Homo sapiens: one gene and its partner. The protein of the gene in region 2 interacts with the protein of the main gene of each other region in a biochemical or structural test. Each region holds a gene or a part of one and is shown on either strand. Other genes may lie near its edges.

What was found.
Region 1: the proteins of DRD2 (region 2) and PAWR form a complex in vitro, tested with the Homo sapiens proteins (one study listed by BioGRID).

What each region holds. Positions count from the first base shown.
Region 1 is NC_000012.12:79,589,866-79,597,147, forward strand, and holds part of PAWR (PRKC apoptosis WT1 regulator protein), read right to left. Parts: intron 6,794-7,282; coding exon 6,646-6,793; intron 4,569-6,645; coding exon 4,464-4,568; intron 2,829-4,463; coding exon 2,742-2,828; 3' UTR 1-2,741. UniProt on the Homo sapiens protein: Pro-apoptotic protein capable of selectively inducing apoptosis in cancer cells, sensitizing the cells to diverse apoptotic stimuli and causing regression of tumors in animal models.
Region 2 is NC_000011.10:113,465,174-113,472,455, forward strand, and holds part of DRD2 (D(2) dopamine receptor), read right to left. Parts: intron 1-7,282. UniProt on the Homo sapiens protein: Dopamine receptor whose activity is mediated by G proteins which inhibit adenylyl cyclase. Positively regulates postnatal regression of retinal hyaloid vessels via suppression of VEGFR2/KDR activity, downstream of OPN5.

The DNA of each region.
Region 1 (7,282 bases), on a different chromosome or scaffold from region 2:
ATTTCACAAATACTAACACTTTATTGACAATAGACAAGTCTTTTAGGGTAGTGCACATGTACTTAAAAACTACCTTCTACCAATCTCAACACTTTTTATAAATTTTCAGGTGAAACTGTAGCAGATCCTACTTTATTTTTCAATGGTTAGTGTAAAATTCTGTATGTAAAATAAGTACATATTTTGAGATGGAAGAAGGACTGCATGTGAAATGCTTTGCCTAAGTTGTAAGGCTCCTGTCTTTACGCTATCATTAAAGGCCAAAAAAATCACTGCTAGAAATGTTCCCCAAAAAATTCTTAAACAGCTCAGTCTTTAAAAGTATTAATAATTTTTTTTTTTTTTTTTTTGGAGACAGAGTTTCGCTCTTCTTGCCCAGGCTGGAGTACAATGGCGCAATCTCAGCTCACCGCAACCTCTGTCTCCTGGGTTTTCAAGCGATTCTCCTGCCTCAGCCTCCTGAGTAGCCAGGATTACAGGCATGCGCCACCACACCTGGCTAATTTTGTATTTTTAGTAGAGACGGGGTTTCTCCATGTTGGTCAAGCTGGTCTCAAACTCCCGAACTCTGGTAATCCACCCGCCTTGGCCTCCCAAAGTGCTGGGATTACAGGCATGAGCCACTGCACCCAGCCTAATAACTGATATAATTTTTTTAAGTGAAATGAAATGTTCCTTTATTTACATATGAATTAAATAGAAAATTCAAAGTAATTCTTTTAATAAAAACCCATATACTAATATATTTTAAGGTTGGATACTAACAGCATTTTCACAAGATCCAAAGTGTGGATGACGAACTAGGCAATAAGGACATGTGTGCCACATAACTAAGGGTAACTAAAGGAAGATGAGTACCTCACAACCAAAAGCAGTTAACTATGCCTGGCATACCACCCTGTCATGTGGGCAGATCACTGTTCCCATGCTGGGTAAGAGTCTCCAAGAAGGGAAGCCCTTATGCAGTAATTCTGTAACTATATTAAATTTGGTAATCTAACATTAAACTTTTTCGTGAGCAGTGAATATACACATGGTCATATGAAAACTGCCCTGGAGACCGGGTTAATTATTAAATAAACTAAAAGGGGAGAAATGCTGATAGATAAAATTATGTCAATTCCAGGGTGTTCAATGGAATAAAGAAACAGCAGCAGCTGCTTCAAAAGTAGACTATGATCAGAAACCTCAGATGGTAACCTTTAAAAATTGTGGAATCCAGAGTCTCAACCTAAACCTACATAGGAGCTACAGCCAGGGAGTTCTTTCTAAGTTCCTCAAGTGATTCTGATGATTGGCCAAGCTGGAAACTTCTGAACTGGGGGAGAAAGCCAACCTAGGTAAATGTAGAGACTTTTAGAATTCAACATTTGATTATCATTTACTCCACATTTTCCCCCAGCTGTCTCACCTTCTCTATTTTTCTAACAGTGAACAATAAAAGGGCTTGGCAAGTGAAGGAAAAAGTCAGTAGAGTACCTAAAATGGATTTGACTATATTCAAGCCACTTTCATATATTAACTAGATAAAAGGATACCATACTGCTATTTGAAATTCAATCACAAAGCAAAAATGTCATAATTTTAATGTATTTTAAGGGAAGACGGGGTTCTTAACATGAATATGTAATACAAAAACAATTCTAAATAATAATATTTAATAGAAGAAAAAATCTGTATAATTATTTAGAAGTAACTCTGTTTTTAAAATTTCAATGTTAGGAAGAAAATCCCTTAAATTTGAAATAGCGGAATATTCTCTCATATGAAAAAACTGTGTCCCAGTGTTATTCTTCAACTTAGAAATTAGGCAAAGTATTTTAGTACTATTTCTGCTTACATATTGTTTTGTATGAATGTTTTAAGTATGAATAATATTTTGGTTTTTAGTGTGCATGCTAATATAAAAATATGGATTTTTTTCTCCTACACTGACTTTGTACACTTTCCAGGCCCGAAGAATAAAAAACTTTTAAAATATCCTGTGTTCACTAGCAAACCTTGGAACGATAAAAAAAGGTAGTACCTACATAAGAAATTTTACATTGAAATTACAATTGTATGTTTTTCAGGAGTTAAAGTGATTCAATTTTTCAATATTCAAACACAAAATAGTAAATTTTTATTTACTATAGCACAATTCAAGTATTCTCTTAAATTTATATTTAGTCAACTAAAACATGACAGTGACTTTATAAGAGCTTTCCTTTTAAAAGGTTGCTGTTATAAAAAAGTATGACTCTATTACTCTAAATGCTTAGAATAAGTGGAAAGAACAAATGACAGTAGACAAAAACCTTTATGAGTGAGTCATCAACACATAAAAGGTTGCACACATCAGTAATAGGACATGTGAAGGTAACATCCCAAAAGTATTTGAACTCATGTAAACAAAGACTATGTATATTCCTAAGGGAGAAAATGTACTACCAAGATAAAATATATTCAAACGGCTGTGACTTTAAACCATGTATTAGTTGAATACCACACAAAACCAAAAAGGCATTATCTATCATTTAATAACTGAAAGATATTACTTATTTGTGAGATAAAAGGATAATGCTTTTTTAAAACCAATAATGAAAAAGAAGTATTTTGAAAACAAACATCTGTTTGCTAGAAATAAATATACTTGCTTAGTTATTTTAATGTATTGCAGCATAGGAATATTGTGCTAGCATTGACCATTAACATTCAATCAGTAGTTTAAAATATTTTTTCCACATTGAGTCTTGAATCCTCTACCTGGTCAGCTGACCCACAACTTTCAAAAGAGTTTTATTTTCCTGCTTTAGCTGTTCATTTTCATCTTCTATGTCATCTAGGTCCTTAAGAAAAAAAAAAGACACTTTAAAAATACTTAAAAATATTTGAGGAGAGATGAAAACACTTAATACACATTAAAAATAATTCATACAACCAATTAATTTTGAAATGAGGGCAAGCTCTGAAAACAACTTTAGATGTAATATGCCCCACCAAAAAAGAGCATCCATTACTTGACTCTTCGTTCTTACAACAAGTGTATAGGCCAACTCTTACAGATCTTTCAGTTTTTCAAAGGAAGCCGAAAGTCAGAATTTTAAAATTGTGAATCTTCCAATTTTCAATCATCATAAATAAGTTAGTTTTTTAGCTAAACAAACTCCACTTCCCCTCCCTAAAACTGAGGCAAAAAAAAAAACTACCCATGCAAGCCATATATGGTATTGAGCCCTAGGTTGCAACCTTGTGTCAAATTAGTCATCAAAAGGTGCAGGTACAAGTTCTAGATGCACTCCTACCACTGTCTGATCTTTAAAGGTGTACAATGGGGATAACACTCTGGAGAGGTGACAAAACTGAGGCCTACGGAAAAGGGGATCTGGAGTATCTTGATCTGGATCAATTTTGTTTTCAGCTCCAGATCAATTTGTATGTTGGACTTTTCTACGACATTTTGAAGGAAAGGTTTTAGAGCTAAAATTAATTCAAAGCCACTAAATTAAGTATTCGCTCTCCAGCTTTAAAAGCATATGATCCAGCTCTTTTTTCCCTGTATTAATCCTTGTCCCAAACACACAACCATCTGGTTAAAACAAATTCACCATAAGTTTTAGTTACAAGAAACATTATTTCAAGACAGACTCTTTACTGTTAAAAAAGCAGACATTTATAGATTTATTCTTGCAGTTTAAAATAATAAATCTTGATGTAATCAATTTGAATCACTTGAACCCGGGGGGTGGAGGTTGCAGTGAGCTGAGATCGCGCCACTGAACTCCAGCCTGGGCAACAGAGAGAGACTCCTTCTCAAAAAATAATAATAATAATAATAAAGAGTACCAATTTTAGGGTTTTTTTTTTTTTTTTTTGAGACAGAGTCTTACTCTTGCTGCCCAGGCTGGAGTGCAGCAGCGCAATCTTGGCTCACTGCAACCTCCGCCTCCTGGGATCAAGCAATTCTCCTGCCTCAACCTTCTGAGTAGCTGAGATTACAGGTGCCCACCACCATGCCCAGCTAATTTTTCATATTTTTAGTAGAGTCGGGGTTTTACCATGTTGGCCAGGCTGGTCTCGAACTCCTGACTTCACGTGATCCGCCCTCCTCGGCCTCCCAAAGTGCTGAGATTACAGGTGTGAGCCACAGCGCCTGGCCAATTTTAGATATTTCTTGAGGCAACTCTGTGCCAGTGCCCTTACATATGGTAGTGACAAAGCGCCTGTCACCCTCAGATTTTAACAAAACAGAGAACAAATCCATAAATCAGTCTATCTCCAAAAGAATAAAATTAAGTGAGCTAAACTGATAACTGCCCAAAGGAAATCAGTTTTTGGAAGAAAATGATACCTCTTACTAATTATTATTTCACTAACAAAAGAACAAAGTGAATAATGCAATTAATAATTTCTTCATATTTATATATTTTCATCCAATTGCCAAAAAAAACCCCTCCAAACCTGAAATATGGTGAAATACTTACTCTATTTAATAAATCAATTTCTTCTTTGAGTTTTCCAATCATTTCCTCTTTATCTTGCATCAGTCTCACAAGTCTTAGGTTTTCTTGTCTTTCTCTTACTACTTCCTGGTAGATACAATTAAAAACCAGTAATTAGGAAGTAATTGTTTATTTATAATCTTCCTAAGTGGCATATATCTCCCCAATTTGGTAAAATATCTTACATACATGAAGATTTCCAATGAATCCCTTAAGACATTTGGTGAAGGAACAAAGATCCCACCACAAAAGGAATCAGAGAATGCACAGGAGATATTAGGATGCTCCTGAGTAAAGCTATGTTTATACAAGTCTTTAACAAAACTAATGTAATAGACTCAATGATTTAACCTCGTGTGTGTGTGTGTGTGTGTGTGTGTGTATGTATGTATGGCAGTGTTTCACTCTTGTCACCCAGGCTGGAGTGCAATGGCACCTTGGCTCACTGCAACCTCCACCTCCTGGGTTCAAGCGATTCTCCTGCCTCAGCCTCCCAAGTAGCTGGAATTACAGGTGCATGCCACCATGCCTGGGTAATTTTCATATTTTTAGTACAGATGGGGCTTTGCCATGTTGCCCAGGCTGGTCTCGAACTCCTGACCTCAAGTGATCTGCCCGCCTCAGCCTACCAAAGTGCTGGGATTACAAGCGTGAGCCACTGTGCCCGGCCTGTGATTTAACTTATTTAGCTTATCACCACTATAAGTTATGAACTACCTTATTTTTTAATGGGTATCTTGTTTGAAATAATTCAAAATTAATTTTTCTTAAAAATACAAAGTTTAAAGGAGATGGCCCAATAGAAACTCTAAACAGAAAAACAATGGTCCTCAGTTTTACTTCTGGCTCTGCCAGTTAACTGATAATGGATAAAAAGAAGGAACTAAAATAGATTACTGATTTTTAATTTTTTTTTTCTTTAAACAATGCAACATCTTTTTCAAAGACATCTTATTTAGAATCCAGGGCACTGGGCTTGGTCAGCCACCTTGGGGGCAAAAGGGAAGCAGAGCTCAAAAGGCCTTGCCCAGAACTTGGCTTCTTTCTTACTAAACCTCCTACAGAGCAATCAACCATCCATATCCCTTAGCTGCTGCCAACTACTAGCAATTCAATCCAAACTCTTGTGGAACTCACGAAGCCTTTCTGGGCAACTATCTTCAAAACTATTAGATTACATATTGTCTAAACTTTTTAATTTAAAATTATGAAATAATAGGCTGGGCACAGTGGCTCACGCCTGTAATTCCAGCACTTTAGGAAGCCGAGGCGGGTGGATCACCTGAGGTTAGGAATTCAAGACCAGCCTGACCAACATGGTGAAACCCCTTCTCTACTAAAAATACAAAAAAAGAATTAGCCGGGCTTGGTGGTGCATGCCTGTAATCCCAGTTACTTGGAAGGCTGAGGCAGAAGAAACACTTGAACCTGGGAAGTGGAGGTTGCAGTGAGCCGATACTGAGCCATTGTACTCCAGCTTAGGCAACAAGAGCGAAACTCTGTCTCAAAACTAAATAAATAAATAAAAATAAATAAAACTATGAAATAATAATTCCAAGAAGAAACTGTTGTTAAAGCTTAGAAATGTGACCTCAAAAAATCATAAATGTTATAAAATAGAAACAAGTTTTAAAAATGAAATTTCTTTACATAACATATATAAATTAGATCTTTAATAATATAGAGAATAATCTCAAGTAAAACAAAACACATTTTCAACAATTACAAAAGTATTCAACACCATTGCTAATTTTAGGGGTTGAATGTCTATGGCACAAACCTGAGACCCTATGGTTAATAAATTTATGCCAAGAGTCATCTGACTTGCACTGAAAGACACTTTTAAACAGGCATATTCTTAGACAAAATTGTTTCAAACACCAAAGATGGACCTAACTCAGATTTACTCCTGTAATTTGTAAAGTTACAAATGAAAATCTATTCAGACAATATAATAAATACACAGTAGTATATATTTGCCAGCTCAGACTTCTAACCACTTCAAAAACAAGGGCTTTTAATATACTAAAGGTAACAGTTGGCAGAAAAGCGCACATATTAAATATTAAGGAATATTATTTCCTTTCTCACTCAGTTGCTATGAAACAAAAGAATTCTAATGGTATATTAATTTTATCAATCTTAAATAACTTATAATCCATACCTTTTCAAGATCTTCAATTTTCTTTTCCAGTGTGCTACTTGAAACCAGAGTACCTGAAACATTTGCATCCCTGTTATATCTAGGGAACCCACTTCTATCTGTTCGAGAATATCTACTTGAGACATCTTCTTCAGAGACACTGGTTGTGCTGTGGAAATATAAACATTTTATTAAAATCCCTAGTATTCAGCAAGAAAAATGCCAAGAATATTTTCTATTGAGCTTAAAAAAATTAACATTCCCCAAGGACATATGGTTATAGTAGCAACTTATTTGTAACTGTAGAAGTTAATCATTATTCCCACACAATGAAAAAAATGTAAAAGTACCATTAATTCTTTCGACCAATATCTACTGAATAGGTGTTAAGTAACGAACACTGTTCTGGATACTGAAGACGTAACAGCAAACACAAACATGGACTCTGCCCTTCATAGAGCTTTTGGTTAAAAGGGAATATAACTAATAATAAAGCAAGATGATCAGTAAAATAAGGTCAGTGATGGATACTATGAGAACTACGATAGGACAGATCTCCCAGATTATCTTTTTTTTTTTTTTTTTTGAGATGGGGTCTCACTCTTGTCACCCAGACTGGAGTGCAGTGGTGCAATCACAGCTCACTGTGGCTTCGGCT
Region 2 (7,282 bases):
CACTGCACCATCTGCTTCCTGGGTTCAGGTAATTCCCGTGCCTCAGCCACCCCAGTAGCTGGGATTACAGGTGTGAGCCACCACATCCGGCTAAGTTTTGTAGTAGAGATGAGCTTTTGCCATGTTGGCCAGGCTAGTCTCAAACTCCTGGCCTCAAGTGATCTGCCTGTCTTGGCCTCCCAAAATGCTGGGATTACAGGCATGAGCCACCATGCCTGGCCAGTTTTTGTTGTTGTTGTTGTTTGTTTGTTTGTTTGTTTGTTTGTTTGTTTTACTGCAAATTGAATCACTGGAGTTGTCCCTGTGCTTAAAACCCAATCCTTCAAGTTGGCTTCTTTTTTCCCTCAGGATGGAATCCAGTCTCCTACATAAGACTTCAAGGTTCATAGTCAGGCCCCTGCCTAAGCCTTTGGCCTTACCTTGTACCATCTTCACTTCAAATCCCATTCATTAGCCACTGAGTTTCTTCAAAACTCCATGGTCTAACCTGAGCCAGGTGTGGAGGAAAAACCCTGGGCAGAAGTGAGTTCTAGTCCAGCTCTCCTACTTCTCTGCTGTGTAACATTGGGTTCTTTCAAGTATAACACTCTATGCCAATTCATACCTGGTCTAATGTCTTCATCTGCAATGGTGTCTTTCTTCCCTCCAGAAGAGAGAATATAAAATTTGGAGCACAGGTTGGGAAGGGTTCTGTGGACACTTCTCTGCCCACTGATAATTACGATAAGGATAATGATAGTGAATGTTTGCTGAGAGCTTACCATGCATCAGGTACTGAGACAAGCACTTTATGTGCGTGACTCATTTCCTTTGCACAAAACCCAATCAGGTAAGTATATAGTCATCCTGTTTTATGAAGGGATAAAGAACTGCATCTCAAAGGGGTGATAGTAACTTGATAGAGGTCACATAGCTCATGACCGATAGAACAAAGATCTGATCCTGCATTAGCCTGGTTTTTGAGTGCTCTGAACCACTTTGTTTAACTAAATAACTAGAGGGACAGGGGATGCATAGCCCACTTCTTAAAAGTGCTTTGTGGAAAGATAGGTTCAAACTGTTACTGCGTTTGGAGGGTCTTGGGTATAATCATGCTTATCTGTACCTTTTAAAGTAAGGACTAGTCCAATTCCCCAAAGTCTAAACACAGAAATCACCAAAGCACTAATGGCATCCCTCAATAACAGCTCTTTTGTCTTCAGGTCCCCAGGCTGACCTGAACAAACACACCTGTGTATGTTTCCTCAACAGCCCCCCCAGTGCATTTTCTCCATGAGTGTGTCTGATTGAAGTAGGTTCCAACCATTCAATATTCCCCAACTTCCATGCCCTGTGACAACTGCGAAAAATTTCCATCCAACCTATAATGTCTTCATGGCTGAGGGTGGCCAGATAGTGCAGGTTAGGGATGAAAGAGAGAAGGCATGAAGTATGTTGCTGACCTATGAGATACCTCTAGTGGGGGATGCCTCAGACACTGCCACTCTTGTTAAGCTGCAAGTAAAGTAGAGGGAGAGTGTCGCTATGGGGAAGTAAGCTGTCTCTCACCTACCCATCACTTATCCACTCACCCACTCTCACTCAACAATTTAAGTAACTACCAAGTGCCTAGCACCATTTTAGGTTATAATAGATTTTAGAGAAGCATGAGACAAATTCTCTGCTTCAAGGAGCTCATGGTCTGGTGGAGAAGACAAGAAATGCACAATTGAGAGATTAGCATTAAGCATTAAGTTGGCTCCTCACAGAAGACAGGCCACAAGGGAGATTTTGTGTCATTAGTCACAATGTGACTCTAGAGTGATCCCAGACCTTCAACTACACATACTACTAAAGAAAAATAGTGTGTGGAAACATGGATCCACCGTGGTGCGGGGGCAGGCGGTGGGAGGCGGTGCTGACATCCTCTGCCTGGGACCCTGGAAGTTAGTTTCTGCTTGTCAACACATGTCTCTTATTGACCCTGCCATAAATGAGTGAAAGAGTTGAAAGGGCTGAGTCCAAAAAAGGATGAACCAAGGAAGATGACCCAGGAACAGAATACCTACAGTGCCTTCTGAAATATTCTACCATAGCTAAATGGTGAGCATTTGTAGCTGGCCAGAAATAGATGCACATCAATTACAAGAGAGTCCTCCCCAAGAAGGGATTCATAGACCAAGAAAAAGGCCAACAAGAGGGATTATCTTTATGCACTGGGGAATCTCAGGACCAGAAGCTACTGTTTCCATCCTCCTTTCTCAGGCAGGACCATACTTCACCTAAAAACATGATAGCATTTGCTCCTGCCAAGAATGACTCCAGAAGCTGCAGAACACATATTTCTGCCAGCTTTGGGGGTCTGCTCATGTGAAGTTCTTTGGCCCTTTCAATCTGGGAAAAGAAAAAAAGTCACCTTGTCCTTGTACACCAGTACATTCTCCTTGTTTTTTGTTTTTAATAAAAACTGGCCTGTGCCAGAGCAACATACCATGTGACACTGCCAATCAGGGAGGCTCCAACCATGAGGTAGCAGACACAGAGCCCAGGAAACCAGGAAGAAAAATTAGGCCATGAAAAGCTATCACCAGGATAACTTATGCCTCTTCCTAGCTCATGTGGTGTAAGATGGAAATGAATTCAGCTGCACCTAAATCAAAGGGATGACAAGCAATTCAAACCCCTATCTCGCTCAAAATGAGCAAGAGCTGCTGACAGGTGAAAGCCAAAGAATTTTGGTGCAGATAAGTGGAGAGTGTAAGAAAGAAGTATATCCTTGAATTTTGTGAACGTTTTAGAAACATGATTTCAGAAATGTAAAATCAGGTGCTGAATTACTGCAAAAGGACAACAGCTCAAAGTGTTGTTTCTTACTTAAGCATCTTAATAATAACAATAACAATCATTACAGTTAACATTTAAAGAGTACTCACTTTTCCCAGGGACTCTTTCAAATGTCTTGTCTCTATTACCTTAATTAATTACTGTGACCCAATTATGTTGGTATTAACATCCACTTACAGGTGAGAACCCCCAGGTGATAGAGGTTAATTAACTTGCTCATGGTCACATAGCTAGTAAGTGTTAGAGTCAGGATTCAAATCCTGGAAGTCTAATTCCAGAGCCCACAGGTTTAACTACCATATGGTGTTGTTTTTAAAGGGTTTAAATAGGTGACTAAATATTGATATATGTCATTCATAAAACTCATGGTGAGGCTCAACAACAGAGGAGTCTTCTCACTTATTATGAGGTGAACACGATTATTACAGTCCCTTATTTGTGCCTGAAATAACTGATGAGCAGGTTAAGTGCCCTGCCCAGGGACATCCAGGCCTCACCTGCCTCTGTCTATCAGAAAAGCATTGATCAGGGTTTTTTTTGTTTTTTGTTTGTTTGTTTGTTTGTTTTTTGAGATGGAGTCTCGTTCTGCCACCCAGGTTGGAGTGCAGTGGCACGATACTGGCTCACTGCAACCTCTACCTCCCAGGTTCAAGCAATTTTCCTGCCTCAGCCTCCTGAGTAGCTGAGACCACAGGTGCATGCTGCCAGATCCTAATTTTTTTGTGTGTTTTAGTAGAGATGGGGTTTCACTGTGTTGCCCAGGCTGGTTGTGAACTCCTGAGTTCAAGCAATCTGCCCACCTCAGCCTCCCAAAGGGATGGGATTACAGGCGTGAGCCACCGCGTCTGGCTAATCAGCTCATTTTTTAAAGGCAGCTCTCATGAGTCACTCCTGTGTCTGTCCAGGATCCCAGGCCATCCCGCCCTCACATTTCTGTAAAATGTGGAAGCTTAGTCTTGGAGATATAACAAGTTTTCCTTCTATGGTAATAAGAAAGCAAACCCAAAGACCTAATTGTTGGCAGAAGTCTGGCTTTCATCCTTTGGACAGTTCAGTTCACCTCAAAGAGATGTGGGACAGAAGGTAATGTCATCACAGTTCCAGAAGAGCTTGACAAAACATCCGTCTACACCTCCTCCCAGCTCCTCCCCCAGGTTGGAAGGCTTAGTTGACCCTGCCTCCCTCCTGCTCCTGCCGCCCTCCCTCCTGCTCCCACTGCTTGCTGAGGTTTACGCCCAGTGCATTTCATCCAAAGGGACCCAGATCCAGGTACAGAACACTTCCTCGCTGGTTCTCAAATTTAAGAATCCCAAGGAGTTATTTTATTCATCCTTCTCCATCTGCTGTCTCCCTCTTCACTTTCCTGGTATCATACACAAAGATTACTGCCCTTTCATTCACTAAAGAATTATCTTCTTATCCCTATTCTCCTCCTTTTCTTGTTCTTTATGCCACTTACGTATCAGAGAGGGCTATTGCTTTAGCCTTAAACAGTCTGGTTTTGAATCTTTGTCTCACACATGAAACGTGTGACCTTGTGCAAACCACTTACCTTTCTAAGCCTATGCTTCTTCCTCTGCAAAATGGAATAATAAGGGTTACTCTGAGGCAGGAGGATCGTTTGAAGCCAGGAGTTCAAGACCAGACTGGACAACAAAGCAAGGCCCTATATCTACAAAAAATTCTTTAAAAAATTAGTTGGGCATGCTGGCATGCACCTGTACTCCCAGCTGCTCGGGTGGCTGAAGCAGGAGGATCACTTGAGCCCAGGAGTTCAAGGCTGCTGTGAGCTATGATTGCACCACTGCACTCCAGCCTGGGTGACAGAGCAAGACCTCTCTCTAAAAATGAAAATAATAAATAAATAAATAAATAATAAACAAACAAAAAATGTAAAAACAAGGGTTCCTATTTCACAGAGTTGTTGCAGGATTGGGAGTTTAAATGAAGAACCTATGTCAAGTGCTGAGCACAGCGCCCTGCACACAGTAAGTGCACAATAAATGCTGGCCGTTATGATGATGAGGCCAGCAAAGGAGGGTCTGGTGAACAGGACCACTTCTCATTCTAGGGAAGCCTGGTACTAAGCCACTTTCCCATATCAAGAGTTCCTGGGAGTTGCTAGTGATGGTGCTGCCTGGGGTAGCAGGTAGGAGAGGAGGCAATGATGTAGCATGTAACAAAAATAATTTCATTTCTAATGTCTTTCTCCTGCTGGGCCACTTAGAACCCAAACAATAACAACAAGGAGGGGGTGGAAATGAGAAGGGCAGGCACGTTCTGAAGGAGACCAATAACAAATGAACAGGCGCCAGGACTCCCTTTGGCTCCCAGACATCTGCAGGGGATTATCGTTGGGGCCACAGCTGCAGTTCTGTGCTGAGCGACAGCTTCCTGGAAGGCAGGACTGCCCAGGCTAACTGCAGGCCTATTGATGGAGCTCCTGGGAGCCAGGTCTGCCTGACTTCCCTTACCGCCCTCTGTCTGGAAGCAAGCTGACATTACCCAGAGGGCTGCAGGGGAAACCAGAGGTTTTCCCTCCTTCCCCTCCCTGTCCCTTCAGACAGCAAAGAATTCCCTCATCTCCTACTGGAAAAAGTAAAAATCCTTACAGGTGACATCAGATTATGACAAAATTGCCCAAACTACACTAAGCTGATACCTATATTCAATGCATATTTAACATCAGCCTCTTTCAGGGCCTCCTAAGAGTCTACTTCTCCTCTGCTCTCACCTCTGTACACTGTCCCATACTCTCCCAAATGCCCCTAGGAGTTTCCAGGCTTCTGAGTTCAAAGCACTGCAGCAGCACAGTTTCTTCTATCCAGGGGAAGAGGGAGGCCTCAGACCCCAGTGTGTCATCTCTGACTCCTCCCTATACACTAGAGCCACCAGGGTCCTTGGCCCCTCTGCAGTGAAACACTCTCATGTATCCTAGGGAGAGAAGAGGCTGTGCCTTCCAAGGGCATCCCAGCTGCCAAGGGTATTGATTTAACCCATTTACCAGATTAAGGTGAAAGGAAAAAGAAAAGAAAAATCTGCAATTCTGAGGGCAAATTTCTCTCCTTTCTCTGGACCCAAATCAAAGAAAACCAAGTGGCTGAGTCTTATAGTTTTATTACTCCTCCATCCCCATGTGCTGACACTATAATCAAGCTATTTTCCAGGCCTGTACATTTAGATAATATGATTCTATTGTCAAAAAATAAGAAAGTTTTGCATCCATTTAAGTACAGAGGAAAGAAATCTCCAATTACATTGGTCATGGGAACAGGTGAGAGGCAAAAGTATATTAATATTAGATTCCAACACCATTAGAGTAATTTAAAAGGCCAGAGATAACATTAGTCTACTGCTCAAATTGGTAAATAAGCAATTTGTGCATCCTTAGTGGCTCCATGGTATATTCTGGAGAGCAGAAGGGCTTATACCTAATCCCAAGGTCCTTCCAAGGCCACAAAATGCCTTACTGGAGGTGAGAAGAGGGAAAATGGTGCTGGGGTTCAGCTAAGTAAGAGGCTACCTACAAAGGAGGGTGCCTGCTGAGAAGTTGAATCAACCTGTGTCCTTTCTGCTGCCCATGGTTTCCGAGTGTTTCCTATATGCAGGATGCTCCTCTGCTAAGCAGAGTACCTGGTAGGATGGAGAAGCTCCAGTTGCTGAGTCCAGTCCTGGTGTTCAGAAACTGGAAAATTCATTGGAAAAAGTTCTGTTTAGGAGAACTTTAATAAAAGAAGAAAGACCATTGTATTTCTGGACTAAGGAAACAGCTTCCCTGTTTGGAGTCAGGGGCATCTGGCATGACCTCTGAGGAGCCCAAGAAGATAACCTAAGAATCTAAAGTCCTATAAACTATATCCCAGGAAAATGCAAATGACTGGGCTGCTGTTCTAAGCTATTTTCAAGACCTCAACTCTTAGGTAACTGTAGCCTGCTGATATATAACTTGATTCTGGGAGATATTACAAATATGACTTAGGGTTCTGGCATTATAAAACCTCAACTTGATTCTTCTCTCTTCCTAGGTGTTGAGGCACCTTCACTGTTGGAGATTCATAGGTATTAAGCCACAAAGCGGGGAGAAGTGGTGGGTGCCAACACAGGATTGGCTCAAGGAAGTCTCATCATATCTGTCTCTCCTGGGCGATGTGCTCATATGTGTGCATGCACGTGTATGCAAACACACACAAACACATACACATACACACAGTGCTATCTTCACAGCCACACTTTTTTGTTAACACTAAAATGTAACTTTTACTTGCAGGGGAGATGGAAACCATTCTCTCCAGGCAGAGTCCCCACGTCTTTCCCCTTATACTTGTTTATTCAGAGAATGGTGACCCCAGACCAGTCCGGCTTCAGCAAGACAATCTCAGGAGTATGTGAGGCCATATTTCTAATGACCCTAAGTTCCCATTTGTTTCCCATAGTATCAAAGAAAGAACAGAAGCGTTTG